Linked DNA regions of Homo sapiens: region 2 is linked to region 1. Evidence: fine-mapped expression QTL. Tissue or cell type: monocytes after Pam3CSK4. Region 1 holds a variant in brackets; the other region holds the start of a gene. All regions are shown on one strand. Distances are between the middles of the regions.

Region 1 (8,000 bases):
CTCAGCTCGCTGCAACCTCTGCCTCCCCGGTTCAAGCAATTCGCCTGCCTCACCTTCCCAAGTAGCTGGAACTACAGGTGTGCACCACCACGCCTGGCTATTTTTTTTTTTTTTTTTTTTTGAGACAGAGTCTGGCTCCGTCGCTCAGGCTGGAGTGCAGTGGCATGATCTCGGCTCACTGCAACCTCCATCTCCCGGGTTCAAGCGATTCTCCTGCCTCAGCCTCCCGAGTAGCTGGGATTACAGGCGCCCGCCACCACGCCCGGCTAATTTCTGTATTTTTAATAGAGATGGGGTTTCACCATCTTGGCCAGGCTGGTCTGGAACTGACCTTGTGATTCATTCGCCTCGGCCTCCCAAAGTGCTGGGATTACAGGCATGAGCCACTGCACCTGGCTGTATTTTTGTAGCATTTTAAATAAATTACACCATCAGGTCGGCCCTGACAGTCTCCTGTGCTCTGGCCACTGGGCATCTGTCTCCCAATTGGAGGCTGTTGGAAACAACATCTGCTTATTTATTTCTCTCTTCCTGGAGGGACTGCACCTCTGTCTTCACCACATAATGCGCGATACCAGAACTCGGGACACGCAGCACCGGAGCATGCGCGGGGATCAGCATTGTCCTTCTGGGGCGAGGGCCTGCAGCTGTGCTCACTCCTCGGGGGTCTGTTGCCAGTTTGCCATCCTGTCCAGGAGGGTGGCCTCCCCCACAGATCAGCCCAGGAAGGCGGGCCTGGCTTCCAGTGACCACTGTGACACAGGCCTTGACCCTCAGAGGGACTGGGGTCCTGCAGCGGCCTGAGGGGTGCACAGGTTGCTGCCAGCCATCCCAGGTTTCTCCTAGTGCCCAGGGCATCCTGGGGTCCTGCAGAGTAGCTCAGCTGTCCAGGCAGTAGTCAGGGACATGTTGGAGTCTCATAACATTGAGTTGTCACAAAGGGGAGAAGGAGAAGCTCTGTTTTTTTCCTCAGTGAACTGTGCAGAGCCCAACTGAGGCTGCTCTTTGAGGTGTGTGGCATTCCTGCACCTTGTCAGAGTCTCCCAACCCCTCTCCAGTAAAGGCCCCTGCTTCCTGTGACCAGTGCCCACAGGGCTGGGAGGTCAGTGTGCCACCCGTTTCACAGGTGTCACCTGCCCAGGTGAGAGCCCCAGAGCTCGCCATGGCACCAGCTTGCCTACTTTGCCCTTGCATTGCCCTGGTGAGGTGGACACTGGCTGGGGACAAGACAGCAGTAGACACCCTGAAGCCTGGGCCTGAGCCCAACAAGGACAGCAGCCACCCCTGTTGCACAAAACTGGTTGGGGAAGGCTCTGTAGGTCCCACCCTGAGCCAAGGTGCCCTGCTGCAGGATGGAGAGGCGGGATAGTGTGGGGCAGGAGGACCAACTCCTGGGCCTGGGGTCTGTGGCCAGGCAGGATGTGGTCCAAGGAGGGCCAGAAGGGCAGGGAAGCGGGGCAGGCGTGGCTGTGGGAGTGCTGGGCACCTGCCCTCCTCCTCCTGCAGCTGTCGGAGGATCCACAACGAAGGCTCTGTTTACTGGTGGCCATGGTCCCAGTGGGAGGGTGTGTTACCGCCAGGCAGGGACAGCAGGCAGACAGTATTGGCTGCCTTAAAGGACCAGACGCCCAGCCTTTGTGGGAGGCCTCACCTGCCCTGGAAGGACAGGTGCATGGGGTGCTTCCTCCCTCTCTCCACAAGGGCCTCACTGATCCCCCCCCAAAGGACAGGGGAGCTCCCCGGCCCCTCAGGCTCCCCAGGGAGCTAGCCAGGCTTGTCCCCTACAGGGGTGCCAGACGGTTCTATGAGGCTGATGTCAGGTCCACAGGGGCGTCCTAGAATCACAGGGCTGTGAGAACCAAAGCTCTAGCTGCTGGGGGTCCCATTCTCACTGGAGCCCACCCCTGAGGCACCCCTGGCTCCCAGAGCAGGTGGTCACCTCCCTCGGTAGGTGAAACCAAGGCCCAGGAGGCCTAAGAGTTTGAGGGGTGGCTGGGGCAGAGGACCCAGGGAAGACTGGGGGCCAAGGGCACAGAGGGTCTGGGGGTCATGAGCAGGGGCAAAGGGAAACTGAGGGCAGAAAAGAACAGAGCCACAGAGGAGAAGTGGCCGTGGGGCCCCCTCAGGCCTCATCTTCCTGAGTGGCTGCACCTCTATCCCCTAGTGGGGTCTGACCAGGCAATCCTGGGAGGCTCTGGGAAGAGAGCTGCCCCCCAACAGGGCTGCAGTTCTGGAAGGGAGAACGTGACTGGCCACAGCAGCAGACTCAAATGAGCAAACTAGACCTGTCCCTGATGGGACCGTCCCCTCACCCACCCGTCTCTGTGTGCCTGAATGAATGCTCCAGTTCTGGGGTAACCCAAGGCTTTCTTCCCTTGGCGGGAGTGGGGGTTGGGTTAGGGCTGTGGGCAGCTCTGGGCTAGAGGTGGCAGGAGCCCCCCCTCAACTTCCTAGGTGTCCAGTTACCCATTGGCTGGCAGACAAGCCTTCCTGTGTGGAAACCCGACCACACAGCAGAGGGAGGGCCCCCTGGCCCCCAAGTCCTCCCCATGGGTGCTGTCCGCCCTCCTGGGCCCACCCCACGGACAGGCCTTCCCGGGACAGGGTCTCATTCTCCGTGGCAGTGGGAGGCCTCAGTGTGCCCCAGCCTGGCGGGTGAGACTGGCTTCCTGGTGGGTTCTGGGAGCTGAGCACCTGCCGTGGCCCAGCCCTGCAGAGAAGTGTCCCCGAGGGGCCCAGCCCAGGACCGGCTGAGAGACACAGAGGGCAGACAGACAGGTGGTGCCTCTGGGACCACCTGGCCCTCCAAGCCGTCAGGGTCCCTTCTCACACCCCACGCACCTGATGGGACTCCAGTCCCCACCCCAACCATGACATCCGCCGGGGCAGAGGAGCTCCGGGATCCCCCACACCCTGCACCACCGGCCCTGCTCCCTGCTGGCTGGGCTCTCCCCTGCGCCCCCAGGAGGGGCCCCAGCTCCCACTGTGGGAAGTCCCCGCCCCCCCAGGCCCGCCATTCCTTGGGAGCTTCTGTCCCCAGCGGCTGCCGTGAGAAACACACCTTGGGGTGGGCGGGCTCCTGTGCCTGAGCCCCAGGCCCCGGAGTGTCCACCAGGAGGCAGCATCGGGCTGCTTCCCCCACCTGCGCAGGCGGCCCCTGTCTAGGGGAGTGAGGACCGCCACCCCAGATAACAGCCTGGTTTATTTGCACAGAAGGGGAAGCAGGTGACCGGAGGTCAGCTGCCGCGGGGACCCCCCCTCCAGGGCCCTCCAGAGCCCTCCCAGCCGGGGAGGGTGGGGCGGTCTGCTCAGCAACTGCCCGTCACAACTGCTGGGAGGCCAAGATCTCAGGGTTCTCGTAGCAGTAGGCCTCTTTGGTGGTGGCCTTCGGGGGGCTGCAGACGTTGCAGGGGCAGCAGCGGGTCACCAGGCGGTCCCAGGGCTCCAGAGAATGGAGCCAGACGGGGAGCCAGGCCCAGGAGCGCAGGCGGACAGGCAGCCAGGCCGGCCGGCGCCGCTGCAGGACAGTAACCAGGATGACGAGGAGCACCAGCCCCACCAGGGGACCCCCGACAGCGGCCAGCTCCATGCCCCCTGCCAGGGAGAGCCCGAAGGCCGCCAGGGGCAGCAGCAGGAATCCGAGCAGCAGGTAGACCCCAGCCACCCAGCGGTAACGGGCGGTCACCACCCCGAAGTGCCTGGCCAGCGGGATGGGCAGCCGCAGTGCAGGCACCAGGTACCACAGCAGGATGCCGGCCAGGTTGAAGAAGAAGTGGATGAGGGCGACCTGGGGGCGAGGGGGCTGTCAGGGGCCTGGGCCCAACGAGGTGGGGTCACCAGGGGCCCCGGACCCCTGCCCTCCTCCACCCTACAGAAGGAGCGCCAAGTCTGAAGTTCATCCTGCTTCACGGATGAGATGGCCGTCTGGGAGGCGGGCTGTGGCCAGATGTGGACATGTTCCCCAGCACGCCTCCCGCACGCTCCTGGGAGCTGCAGTCCAGCCCAGCACCCCCGAGCACTGACTGCATCACTGCTGCCCTCAAGGGGGACCTGCGGGGGAAGCACCTTCCGACCTGGCTCTGCCTGTGCCTCCTGCCAAGAGACCCCGTCTCCTCAGTCCCCAGTGTGCTGAGCCTGCACAGTCCAGGCCCTGCGGGGAGGAGGCACAGGGCCACAGGAGGGGAGAACAGTGTCACGGGCCCCTCCAGGGGCTGCCGGACTTGGAGGAGTCCACACACAGGTGCAGTCTGGAGGGCTTCCTGCAGGGGGTGGAGCAGGACCCTGCACTGGGAGGGTCTAAGTGGATAGAGACAGGGCAGAGGCAAGAAGAACGAGCGTGGGTTCCAGGGGGTGCCGCACTTGTCTCTTCCTGT[C/T]AGCGGCGGTGCAGCATGACCCGGAGTTTCGGGAGCTGAACCTGTTGGGCCTCCGGGCAGCAGGCCGCAGACGGGCTGTTTTAGAGGGAGAACCAGCTGGACTAAATGAGACTGGGGTTGGGGCACAGAGCTGGGGGCTCAGACTGGGGGAAGTGTCCTGGAGGCAGAATCACAGCCCTGGCAGCGGCAGGGCAGGGCCCAGCATCGGTGGGACTCGGCCTTTGCAGATGTGGAATGGGGGCTGGGAGGGTCGTCCAGATGGGGACCTGCTGGAGGTGAGTGGCTGCTCCTTGAGGGAGCAGGGGTTGGGGGAAAGCATCTGAGGGTGCTGGAATAGAGGGGCTTAGAGCCCCCTGAGATGCTGGGGGCAGGCCCCCAGGGACACAGCAAAGAGCTGAGAAAATGTGGAAGTGAGGAGGTCTCAAGGGAGGAGACGCAGGGAGGGTGTGAAATGTGTGCAGGACCTGTGGGGTCCAAGGAGGCAGAGCAGCAGGGCTGAGGCTGGCGGCCAGGGAAGGGGTCCAGGAAGGCGGGGGCACAGCCAGCCTAGGGCCCCGGGGCTGGTGACACACTCCTGTCTGTGGGGCTGAGAGGAAGCTGGCCAGTTCTGGCAGCGGGGCAGGGTGGACAGTACCTGCAGGGCGCTGAGCATCCTGTCTGCGGGGCTGGCCAGGGCAGCCAGCAGGGCTGTGGTAGTGGTGCCGATGTTGGAGCCCAGTAAGAGGGGGTACGCCCGGTCCAGACTGATCACCCCGACCCCTGGGGGAACTGGGAGTCACCACAGGACCCCAGCCCGAGCCCCCGTTCCCGAGGCCTCTGTCCTGCCTGCTCACCCATGAGGGGCACGACGGCCGCCGTGAAGACGCTGCTGCTCTGCAGTGCGAAGGTCAGGCCGGCGCCCGCGAGGACGGCCAGGTAGCCGCCGAGCCAGCCCAGCGGGAAGGGGAAGTCTGTGGGGGATGCCGGGTCAGCCCTGGCCAGCGCCCACAAGGAGGGCCAGGTAGCCCCCGAGTCAGCCTGGTGGGAAGGGGAAGTCTATGGGGGATGCTGGGTCAGCCCTGGCCACCGCACCTCCTCCCACGCCCTCACCCGCATTGATGACTGTCCTCACGACCTGGGCCACGCGGCCGCGCAGCACAGAGTTGAGCAGCTTGACTATGAGGACCAGGCAGCCGCAGAGCACCAGCAGGGAGCCGGCCAGCAGGATGCAGCCCACGGCCAGGTCCGTGAGCTCCGTGCCCGCAAACAGGTGGCGGCCTGGGGGCAGGGCAGGGGCAGGTGAGGGGGAGCCTGGGGGGTGGGCCGGGGTGGGCCGGGCCTCACAGGGCAGCCTGTCCGCCGGGGCTGTGCTGTTCCTCTCCATGTAGGGGCCGGTGAGGGGGAGTGTGGGGGGTGTAGGGGGCTTGGGGTGGGCCGGGCCTCACAGGGCAGCCTGTCCGCCGGGGCTGTGCTGTTCTTCTCTGTGCACGGGCCGAAGGCGCCACAGCTGCTGTTCTCCTGGGTCTGGGGAGGGCAGGGAGGACTCAGGACAGGCTCAGTGGGCAGACAGAGGTCAGAGGGCTCGAGGTGAGGGTGGGTGGGGCGGGATGACTCAGCAGGTGGGAGGTTGGGGGTCAGTGAGGGCCTAGGGTTGGGTGCCTCACCGGCTGCCCCGTGGTGCCGCACCAGTGCTTAATGAGACTGCTGTTAGTGGCGTTGCCTGTGGCACTGCTCATGATCATGTCGGAGTCCAACTGGGGGCCAGAGGGGTCGTGACGGTGTGCTGCACCCTCTCTCAGGACTCACCCGGGGCTCTGGCGCCCGCGGGGTCCAGCCCAGCCCTGCCCACTGCTGCCCTCTCCTCCCCTGTCCCAGGACAGGGCCCAGACCCTCCGCTGACCCTCCATCAGGGCAGGGCGGGCCTCCCCTCCTCCCATCCGGCCTGCTCAGGCTCTCTGGGCGGGGGCGGTGGCCGTCCTCACCTGCACGATGAGGTGTGTGAGCGGCTTCGTCAGCACCTTGAGGATGTCGGGCGCCTGCGCCCTGGGTGTCAGGCTGGCGGCACCCAGGGCTAGCTCACTTAGCCTCTCCAGCAGGGCCGTGGCGCTCTCCAGTGGCAGCAGGACCAGCACTGTGAGCCAGTTGAAGATCCCGTGCACCGCCGAGCCGCTGAAAGCCCTGTGGCCGCAGAGAGTGGGCAGGGTCAGGTGGGGGGGCCCGGGCTGGGGCTGCCACTGCAGCCCCAGCCCAGCCCTTCCACCCACAACTCACCTCTGAAATTCATCCCGGTCCCCTGACTGCGCCATTGAGACCAGGGTGCTGGTGATGGATGTGCCTACGTTGACACCCATGATGATGGGCACAGACACCCGGACAGTCAGCACTGCTGGTGGGGGGGCTGAGTCAGCCTGCGGCCCACCCTGCCCCCCCCACCACCCGGGGAGGGAGTGTGCACCCACGCTTAGCAGCCACCATGCTGACCACGATGGAGGAGGACGTGCTGGAACTCTGCACCAGGGCTGTGACCAGCACGCCAATGACCAGTCCAGCCACAGGGTTGGACAGCACCACGTTGTCCTTGAAGATGTCTCCGGCCACTTTGCCTACACCGGCAAGAGAGGTGCGCTGAAGCTGCGGAGGGCTGGTTGCCCGCCCCGCCCTGGGCACCCGTCCCGTCACTCACTGCCCAGCAGCTGGAAGGCGGAGCTGAGGACGTCCAGAGAGCAGATGAAGAAGTACAGGCTGCCGAGGAGCCCGCAGGCCTTGAGGACGCTGCCGGCCACGCGGCGCAGCCTGCCGGCCACGCGGAGCTCTGAGGACACAGGGCAGGCTGTCCCTGGCTGGCCCTCCACCCTGACAGGTCTCCCTCCCAGGCCCCTCATTCTCTGCCCCCTCTCTCCTCTGTCTCCAACAGGGCTGGGTCCCATTTCCTCCTCTTCCGTAACCCCCAGGGCAGGGCCCGGGTTCCTGCCTTTCCAAGCCAGAAGCCCTTGGGACCCTCCCTCGCAGGAGCAGGAGGGGAGGGACGGATGGGCAGAGGTGGCCGGTCTGCCCCAGGACAGCACAGACACCCGGTTGAGGGACACGTGTCTCCCCAGAGGGGGCCTGCATGGCGGAGTTCCCCACACACAGCCTGTTTGGGCAGGCCCCACCCTGCTCTGTCTCCCCAGTCCCGTTGGGGACAGAGGCCTGCCAGCCTGCCACCCCCGGAACCTCCAGACCCACCTTTCCAGGGCTGGCTTGTGTCCTTCAGCTGAGGGAGGGTCCAGGGGTCTGTGTCCCCTTCCTCCAAGACTGGAGCAGAACTGGAGGTCCCTGTGGAGGTAGAATTGAGTACGGCTGTTTCCAGGACCACCTCCCTCCAACTGGGGGCACAAGGGCACAGGCCGGAGGACGGGCTGAGGCGTAAGAGGCCTGGAGTGAGGGACAGAAACGGAACGGGGAAGATGGGGCTCCAGCTGGGCTGGACCTGAGTGGAGGCGTCATGAGCCCTGTGGGTTCCCCGGGAGGCCCGCAGGAAACCTGGCCTGTCTCTGCCCAGTGCCTGGGGGGTGGGTGGTCAGACTGGTGAAGGCCTGGGGCACAGGGGCCACTGGTACCTTCATTCCTCAGAGTCTTTTCCACTAGGTCAACCGCGTCCAGAGTGGG
Region 2 (8,000 bases), 510 kb after region 1:
TGTTCATGCCCAAAACGTCCTGGGGTGCCTGGCTTCACACACTCTGCAGCCCCAGCAGCACTCGCCAGCAGCCCTGCAGGGCTCCACTGGGTACTCTGACTTGTACTTACCCTTCCACCTCTGTCACGTGACCTGGGGCAGGGGCGTGACACCTCCACCTTCCCACTCCCACACCCACCGCCCACTTCACAGCCCTCTGCATTTGGACTTCGTGTAGGGGCCAGGAGCCCCTGCATTTTCTCCAGGAATGTCTTCCAGCCTCAGGGCCAGCTTCGCCCAGGCCTTGACCTGAAGGATGTTCACACGGCTCCTTCAAAGCCCTCCTCATCAGCGCCAATCAACAAAGCAATTCCAGAATGTCCCAACCCTCAGGGGTGTGGCGGGGGGTGGGGGGGAGAGCTTGGGGGGGATGCAAACCCTTGGTAATGACCTTGGTGTGAACCTGTGTCCACAAGGCAGCCAAAGCAGGGAGGGGAAGGCGTCCACGTTTAGTTGATTTGTTGTTTTATCCAGAATGGTGATCCGTGAAGTCTGGAAGAAATTCTGAGTCGTCACAGAGTGTGGGTGTTCTGAGACTGCGGGCTGTCTGTTGCTGTCACTTTTGTTTTGTTTGTTTTGGTTTTTTTTTTTTTTTTTTTTTTGAGAGGGAGTCTCAGTCTGCCGCCCAGGCTGGAGTGCATGCAGTGGCACAATATCTGCTCACTGCAACCTCTGCCTCCCAGGTTCAAGTGATTCTCCTGCCTCAGCCTCCTGAGTAGCTGGGATTATAGGTGCGCACCATCATGCCCAGCTGATTTTTGCATTTTTAGTAGAGATGGGGTTTCCCCATGTTGGCCAGGCTGGTCTCGAACTCCTGACCTCAGGTGATCCACCCGCCTCAGCCTCCCAAAGTACTGGGATTACAGGCGTGAGCCACTGCGCCAGGCCTCTTTGGTTGGGTTTTTAAATTTTTTTAAAATTTTTTTGAGACGGTGTCTCACTCTGTTGCCCAGGCCAGAGTGCAGTGGCACAATCTCAGCTCGCTGCAAACTCCGCCTCCTGGGTTCAAGTGATTCTCCCACCTCAGCCTCCTGTGTAGCTTGGATTATAGGCACCCACTATCATGCCTGGCTAATTTTTGTATTTTTGTAAAGATGGGGTTTCACTACATTGACCAAGCTGGTCTTGAACCCCTGACCTCAGGTGATCCACCCACCTTGGCCTCCCAAAGTTCTGGGGTTACAGGCGTGAGCCACCGCGCCTGGTGGGCTTCTATTTTGTTTTGAATGGTAAGTTCTGTGGTTTGAATGTGTCCTCTCCAAAATTCAGATGTTGCCAGTGTGAACATATCAAGAGGTGGGGCCTTTGAAGAGGCGATTAGGCCATGAGGTCTCCTCCCGTGTGAATGGGATGAAGGCCCTTCTGAAGCAGCATCCTGCTAGGCTGCTCTGCTGCTACGGGACAGAGCAAGAAGGCCCTTACCAGACGCCAGACACTCACCTTGTTCCCAGACCTCCCAGCCTCCAGAACTGTTCTGTTCTTTATAATTTACCCAGTCCCAGGTATTTTGTTATAGCAGCACAAATAAACTAAGGCAGTAAATAAATAATTTCCTTAAATTTTTTATTGCAGTAAAATATACAGAACATAAAATTCACCGTTTTAACCTTTTTTTTTTTTTTAGACAGGTTCTGTCTCTGTTATCCAGGCTGGAGTGCAGTGACACAATCACAGGTCACTGCAGCCCCCAACTCCTGGGCTCAAAGGATCCTCCCACCTCAGCCACCTGAGTAGCTAGGATTACAGACTATGCCTGGCTAATTTTGTCCAGCTAATTTTCACCGTGTTGCCCAGGCTGGTCTGGAACTCCTGGCCTCAAGCAATCTGCCCACCTTGACCTCTCAAAGGACTGGGATTACAGGCGTGAGCCACCACACCCGGCCTGGCCTTAACCTTTTTTTTTTGAGACAAAGTCTCGCTCTGTTCCCCAGGCTGGAGTGCAATGGCTGGATCTCGGCTCACCACAACCTCTGCCTCCCGGGTTCAAGCGATTCTCCTGCCTCAGCTCCCAGGTAGCAGGATTACGGGCATGCACCACCACGCTCGGCGAATTTTGTATTTTTAGTAGAGATGGCGTTTCTCCATGTTGGTCAGGATGGTCTCAAACTCCCGACCTCAGGTGATACGCCCAACTTCGGCCTCCCAAAGTGCTGGGATTACAGACATGAGCCACTGCGCCCGGCCTGCCCTAACCATTTTTAAGTGCACACTCCAGTGGCATTAAGTACATTCACATTGTCGTGCGACCATCACCCCCATCATCTTCTCCAGAATTTTTTTTTTTGTTTTTTTGAGACGCTCTGTCGCCCAGGCTGGAGTGCAAAGGCTCGATCTTGGCTCACTGCAAACTCCGCCTCCCGGGTTCACGCCATTCTCCCACCTCAGCCTCCCAAGTAGCTGGGATTACAGGGTTGCGTCACTATGCCCGGCTAATTTTTGTATTTTTAGTAGAGACAGGGTTTCACCATGTTGGCCAGGATGGTCATGAACTCCTGACCTCAGGTGATCCGCCCGCCTCAGCCTCCCAAAGTGTTGGCCTTACAGGCGTGAGCCACCGCACCTAGCCTGGGCTGACCTGCACAGAAGTGCCATCTACCTACCCTCTGACCTCTGTCATGTGACCTGGGGCAGGGGATGTGACATCTCCACCTTCTAAGTACCCCACTGTCATGGGGTAGCTCCTCTCTCAGGTGCTGGGGCTCAGGTCCTCTCCTGGGTCTCAGCAGGTCATGGTCTGCTCCGGGGCTATGCATACTGGTTTCAGTAAGTGCTTGGTAGATCTACCCCGCAGCATGGAGCAAGTGCTGGGTCGGGTGCAATGGACTCAGTATCTCTGAAGGAGGAGATGTCTCTTGCCCTCTCTCCACAGCTAGAGCTTTCACTAGCTACAGAGCTACAGCCAACTCCTGCACCAGCTCAGAAGGTAGAGCCAGCTCCGGCTACAACTCGGGTGCTAGTTCCAGGATCAGAGCCAGCTCCAGCAACAGCTCCAGCAGCACACCCAGAGACAGGGGCAGCTCTGGTCACTTCTGTGCCGGCTCCACTATAGCTCCAGCATCCGCCCTCTAGCCAGGACCAGTTCCAAAACCATTTGCATGGTTAGGGCCAAATATCAGCATCAGGTTCAGAAAAAGAGCCAGGGCCAGCATCAGCTACAGGCCCAGCTTCAGCACCGCGGCTCACACCAGTGCGGGTTCCTGTACCAGCTCAAGAACTATGGCCACAGCCAGCACAACTCCAGATCTCACTCCAGCTGCCGCACCAGCTCTACCACCTACTCCAGAAACAGAGGCAGCTCTATCACCAAATCTGGTGCCACCTCCGGTGACTGCTCGGGCACCGGCTCCAAAACCACTTCCAGAGTTTCAGCCAGTTCCAGGTGTAGACCTCAAGCCAGTGCCAGGTTCAGAGGAAGGGCCAGCTGCAGCACCACCTCCAGAGCCAGAGCTGGCACCAGATATAAAGCGATGGCTGATTCCACAACCAGAACCAGAATTAGAGGCAGCTCCAGAGCTACAGCCATCTCAGACCTGCACCAGCTTCAGAACGAGAGCCAGAGTTCCTGCCAGCTCTAGAGCGAAATCCAATCAAGAACCAGCTCTAGCACCATATCCAGAGCTAGGACCAGCTCTGACACTTTTCCCAGGGCAAAGACTAGCAACAGCAACACAGCTAGAGGCAGCTCCAGAGCATCGGTCCCCGGGGCAGAGCCAGCTTGTCTCCAACAACCGTGTCAGTGCTAGGACAGAGCCTGCACCATCTCTGGAGGTGGAGCCTGCTGTGGTGCCAGCTCCAGCCCCAACACCAGAGCTAGAACCCAGCCTGCTGGTGGGGCCACACAGGGAGGAGCCTCAGACCGCGCAGTTGCAGCCCAGTTGCAAAGTGTCCTGGGGTCCTGCGCTGGGGCTTTTCTTAGGAGCCCTGGGGTGTTTTCTGGCTTTGCAAAGGCAATGAAAATTTGAGTTGAATTTATCACCAGCTCCTGCTCCCTCTAAGCCAGTACCCGAGCTGGAGCCAGCTCCTATGCCAGCTCCCGCACCCCGGCCTTCCTGGCCTTTGCCTGTGGCTGCAGAGAGCAGGCTGAGCCAGAAGCCTCATCTCCTGGTGTCCCCTCCAGGCCTAAGGCTAGAGCGGTCTGCGCTGTGCAATGCGGAGGCTGCCCAGCCCCAGGACAGCAGCGCGGCCTTCCTCCCGGCCCCTGCGGCTCAGGCCTGTCATCCCCTGCTCTGGAGCTCGCGTCCTGGTCCGAGTCCCGGCGGCTCCACCGTTCGCAGCCCGGCGACCGCGGCGAGTCGCTTGGCCGCGAGGCCTCGGTGTCCCGCCCTGCGCGGTGACCGAGGTCCCAGGACACAGCGCAGACAGGGCGCTAGTCAGGCCTGGCCGCGGTAATCCCGCCTGCCGGGACCCTCGCCCGCCTCAGCACTCATTAGGCGCCTGGTGTGTACCCGCGCCCATGGCCGACACCGGCAGAGCCCCTGGTGGGGAAGGGACGGAGCGCGTCGCGGGAGCCCCATGCTGCCCGGGGTGGGCGCTGCTCGACAGTCACGGGAGCCGCCCCAATGGCTGGGACCACCGGGACCCACGGGCTCGTGGAGCGTCCTCCTGACCCGGCCTGGGAATCCTCCGCGAAAACGGGGAGCCGCGCGTGTCCGTGGCGTGCCCGGCACCCGGCGGGTCGGAAACGGCGCGGCCCTGGCTGCTGGCCCCGTGGGGCGGTCGCGGTGCAGGACACGGGTCACGGCGCTGCCGCTGCTCTGCGTGGCGAACCCACACGCCCGCCCGCCAGCCACTGAGCAGCGCCCACGTGCGGGCGCGGGGAGCTGAACGGCCGGGGACCGCTGGGGGGCGCTGCTTGGGCGGGGCGGATTGACTCTTGCGGGCCGCCGTACGCGCTATAAAAGGCGCGGCGCTTCCCTTCTCGTCCTCTGCGTGCGCCGGAGGCTGCCGTGGCGGGTGGGCCGCCTGACTTCTCCTCCCGGCCAGTTCTCGAGCGCCTCACCGGGCCTCGCCCTGCAGCCTCGCTCTCGCTGGCGCTGCGCGGCCTAGGGGACTGGGCTGCTGGCCTCCGGGTGCGGGGTGGGGGCAGGCTCCGACCTGGGGCGTCCTGGCCGCGCGAGCCGCGGGATGGGGGCCCGGGCCGCGGAGGAGGCGCCGCTGGTGTGTCCCTTGGTGGAGAGGGCGCTGCCGGCCCTGCGCGGTTTCCAGCCAGGAAGCTTCGGGAAGCCTGGTGAGAGCTGAGTGCGCGAATTCGGATCTTAGAGAAAGGCACCCCGTTCACCCACGACCCTTCCGCTCCTGCCGCTGCTTCCCTGAGTCGCTCAGGCTGTGGGAAGATGTTTGTCGGCATCTTTGAAAAATTGATTTCTTATGCTGCGTCAGGTGGTTTCCTTGTCACTGTGGCTGCTCAGCGGGAGGCTGTTCTGGCGGGAGGAGGACTGCTCGGTTGTCTGGTGGGCATTCCGCCTCGTGGTCCTGGTCCCTTGATACCTGCAGGGGATCAGCAGCCCGCGTTTCGTGGCCACTGTGTTGTAACTCCAACTTCCCCTCCCGCAAATTAAGCGTAGAGTAAGGGGAGAGAGTAACATGGGTCGGATTTTTCTAGAACGGCCCTTGTGACAGTGAGCTTTTTGGTGGCAGGGAGCTTCTTTGGTCCGCCTTCCTGGAGACCAGATGCAGCAAAACGCAGTCTTTTTCTTTTCGAGACAGAGTCTCAGTTGCCCAGGCTGGAGTGCAGTGGCGCGATCTCAGCTCACTACCACCTCTGCCTCCTGGGTTCAAGCGACTTTCCTGCTTCAGCCTCCAGAGTAGCTGGGATTACAGGCGCCAGCCACTAGGCCAGCTAACTTTTTTTTTTTTTTTTTTTAGAGAGACGGGTTTCACCGTGTTGGCCAGGCTGGTTTTGAACTCCTGACCTCAAGTGATCTGCCCGCCTCGGCCTCCCAAAAAACGCAGTGTTTATGTGATGCTCCTCTGTGGTGTTTGCAAGATTTATACAAAATTGCGGTTTCTTTTTTTCTCTAGGACGTCTGCTCACTGGAGATGACACGTGCGTGGGGTGTTGGGTAAGTTGGTGCATTGGAGCTGGAACAGGGTCAATCCTCCAATGTAACTAAGCCCTCCTGTGCAACATCTTAAGTGACTGGAGGGACCAGTCGGTCTTGTGTTCACATTGAGGCTAGAAGCTGTCTCCAGGGGAGTAAAAACGGATTATTTAGTCTTCAACAGGACACTGCCCCTAGAGGCGTTGCAGCTGTGGCTGCCGTGTCACATCTGTGTCATTAGGTGGCAGAGATTAGAGAGGCTATGTCTACGCTCAGCGTTCTGCCCCGTGAACGTTTGAATGTTTGATAGTCTCACACTCCTGTTTTGTGGACAGGCATCTGTTTTCCTTCGCTGGTATCTGGGAGAGAGGGTGGGCCCTGTGAGTGGGCTTTCTAACTCTCGCGCTGGGCTAGGCTGGCCTCTAGGGGTCTGAAGGGATAGTGGGAAGGTGGAGGGTGCCTTCACCAGGAGCAGCCTTCATGAGTGAGTTTTAAGAACCTGTGAGGATCGGTCAGGTCAGGTGAGGTACGCGCTGGATCATGCCGTACACCGTGTCAGGATCACGCAGGACAGGACTGGGGAAGGGTTTGCTGGCGTCTCGGTTAATAGCAGTAACGGCAGCCGCTTGTGTTCTTGATTCTTTGCCAAGCATTCTTGTTATTTAACACGGGAAGGAGGTGACTTCGCCTGTGATGGACTTCCAGTGTGAGCACTGGCCAGAGTGACCAGGCTGACCAGCACCAGCCCTGATCCAGGTAAGAGGTGAGGCGGAGGCTTGCCCTCCTTCCCTGCCTGCCGGGTGCGTGTGAGCGGCTGCCCTGCGGATGCTGTCCTGGACCTGTTGGCACCACAGACAGTTGCTCTGCTGTGCCTGTGGCCTCGGGGCAAAGAGAAAGTGGCGATTTCTACACTCAGTGCTCGGGAACCAGTGGGCACTGAGAATGGTTTATGGCCTGACATTACTTGCAACCAAAGCCAGGCAGCATTTGGATTTTCGCTTTTGGAAACCACCTTACCTGGTTTGCTCCATGAGGGAGGGGCAGCAACATCGCTGGGAACCCTGAGGTGTAGATATGTATAAATGAGCTGTGTGTGTATCTGAAGCTCGGGCACTTGTGGGGTTACCAGGAGTGTGCGTCTCACTCCCAGGCCTCGTTCTGGAAACGATTCTGTAGGTCTGTCTGGGAGGCCTTAGGCAAGTTTGATTAAGAACAGTCGAGCTGGATAAACAGGCTGTTCCTTGTCCAGCACTAGTCATCCCAGGGGGGCGGGGGCGGGGCTGCAACTCCTGTGCACAAAGGAAGGGCCCTGGGTAGGGGTCAGGAGCTGCCTTGCCCAGAGATGTGTCTGGGTCACTTTGGAAACAGGAATCCTCTCCCCAAAATGGGTAGCAATGGGGGTACAGAGGCCAAAGACGCAGCTGCATGTCCTGCAGTGCCTGGGACGCCCCGTAGTGAAGAGTGATGTGGCCCAAATGTCAGCAGTGCCAGTGTCAGACTCCTGCTAAGAGACAGTATCAAGAAAGATAACTTCAAAATACACTTTCTGGAGGCCTGGCGCGGTGGCTCAGGCCTGTAATCCCAGCACTCTGGGAGGCCAATGCATGTGGATCACCTGAGGTCAGGAGTTCGAGACCAGCCTGGCCAACTGCCTGAAACCCCATCTCTACTAAAAATACAAAAATTAGCCAGGTGTGGTGGCGCAAGCCTGTAATCCCAGCTATTTGGGAGGCTGAGGCAGGAGAATCGCTTGAACCCGGGAGGCAGAGGTTGCAGTGAGCCGAGATCGCACCACTGCACTCCAGCCTGGACAACAGAGTGGGACTCTGTCTCAAAAAAAAAAAAAAAAAAAAAAGTACAGTTTCGGGATTTCATAAATTGGGTTCCCTGAGGGTCATTTGGTGAATCCGGGTTAAAGAA

Evidence for each region. PIP is the estimated chance that this variant, and not a neighbour inherited with it, causes the effect.
Region 2: SNHG7 starts here. The variant in region 1 is fine-mapped to the expression of SNHG7 in monocytes after Pam3CSK4 (Quach 2016, PIP 0.95).

Annotation. Positions count from the first base shown.
Region 1 is chr9:137,231,739-137,239,738 of GRCh38, reverse strand. It overlaps SLC34A3 (solute carrier family 34 member 3), which reads right to left. Exons shown (of 13, transcript NM_001177316.2): 2 at 7,952-8,000; 3 at 7,578-7,667; 4 at 7,036-7,164; 5 at 6,812-6,955; 6 at 6,624-6,735; 7 at 6,335-6,530; 8 at 6,017-6,106; 9 at 5,798-5,876; 10 at 5,463-5,630; 11 at 5,207-5,323; 12 at 5,008-5,132; 13 at 3,184-3,787. The coding sequence ends at 3,323. Among named protein-coding and RNA genes, the nearest start is that of SLC34A3, 4.8 kb to the right of the region's middle. RefSeq lists silencers at 2,797-3,026, 3,047-3,376. The variant C/T (reference allele first, on the strand shown) is at 4,374.
Region 2 is chr9:136,725,147-136,733,146 of GRCh38, reverse strand. It overlaps SNHG7 (small nucleolar RNA host gene 7), which reads left to right and starts at 4,963. Exons shown (of 5, transcript NR_024543.1): 1 at 4,963-5,266; 2 at 6,061-6,101; 3 at 6,731-6,836. It overlaps LOC124900276 (cuticle collagen 2-like), which reads left to right and starts at 4,963. Exons shown (of 5, transcript XM_047424334.1): 1 at 4,963-5,266; 2 at 6,061-6,101; 3 at 6,731-6,836. It overlaps SNORA17B (small nucleolar RNA, H/ACA box 17B), which reads left to right and starts at 6,910; the gene lies at 6,910-7,043. SNORA17A (small nucleolar RNA, H/ACA box 17A) reads left to right here and starts at 6,268; the gene lies at 6,268-6,400. RefSeq lists enhancers at 1-555, 3,616-3,765 and silencers at 4,213-4,382, 4,536-5,215.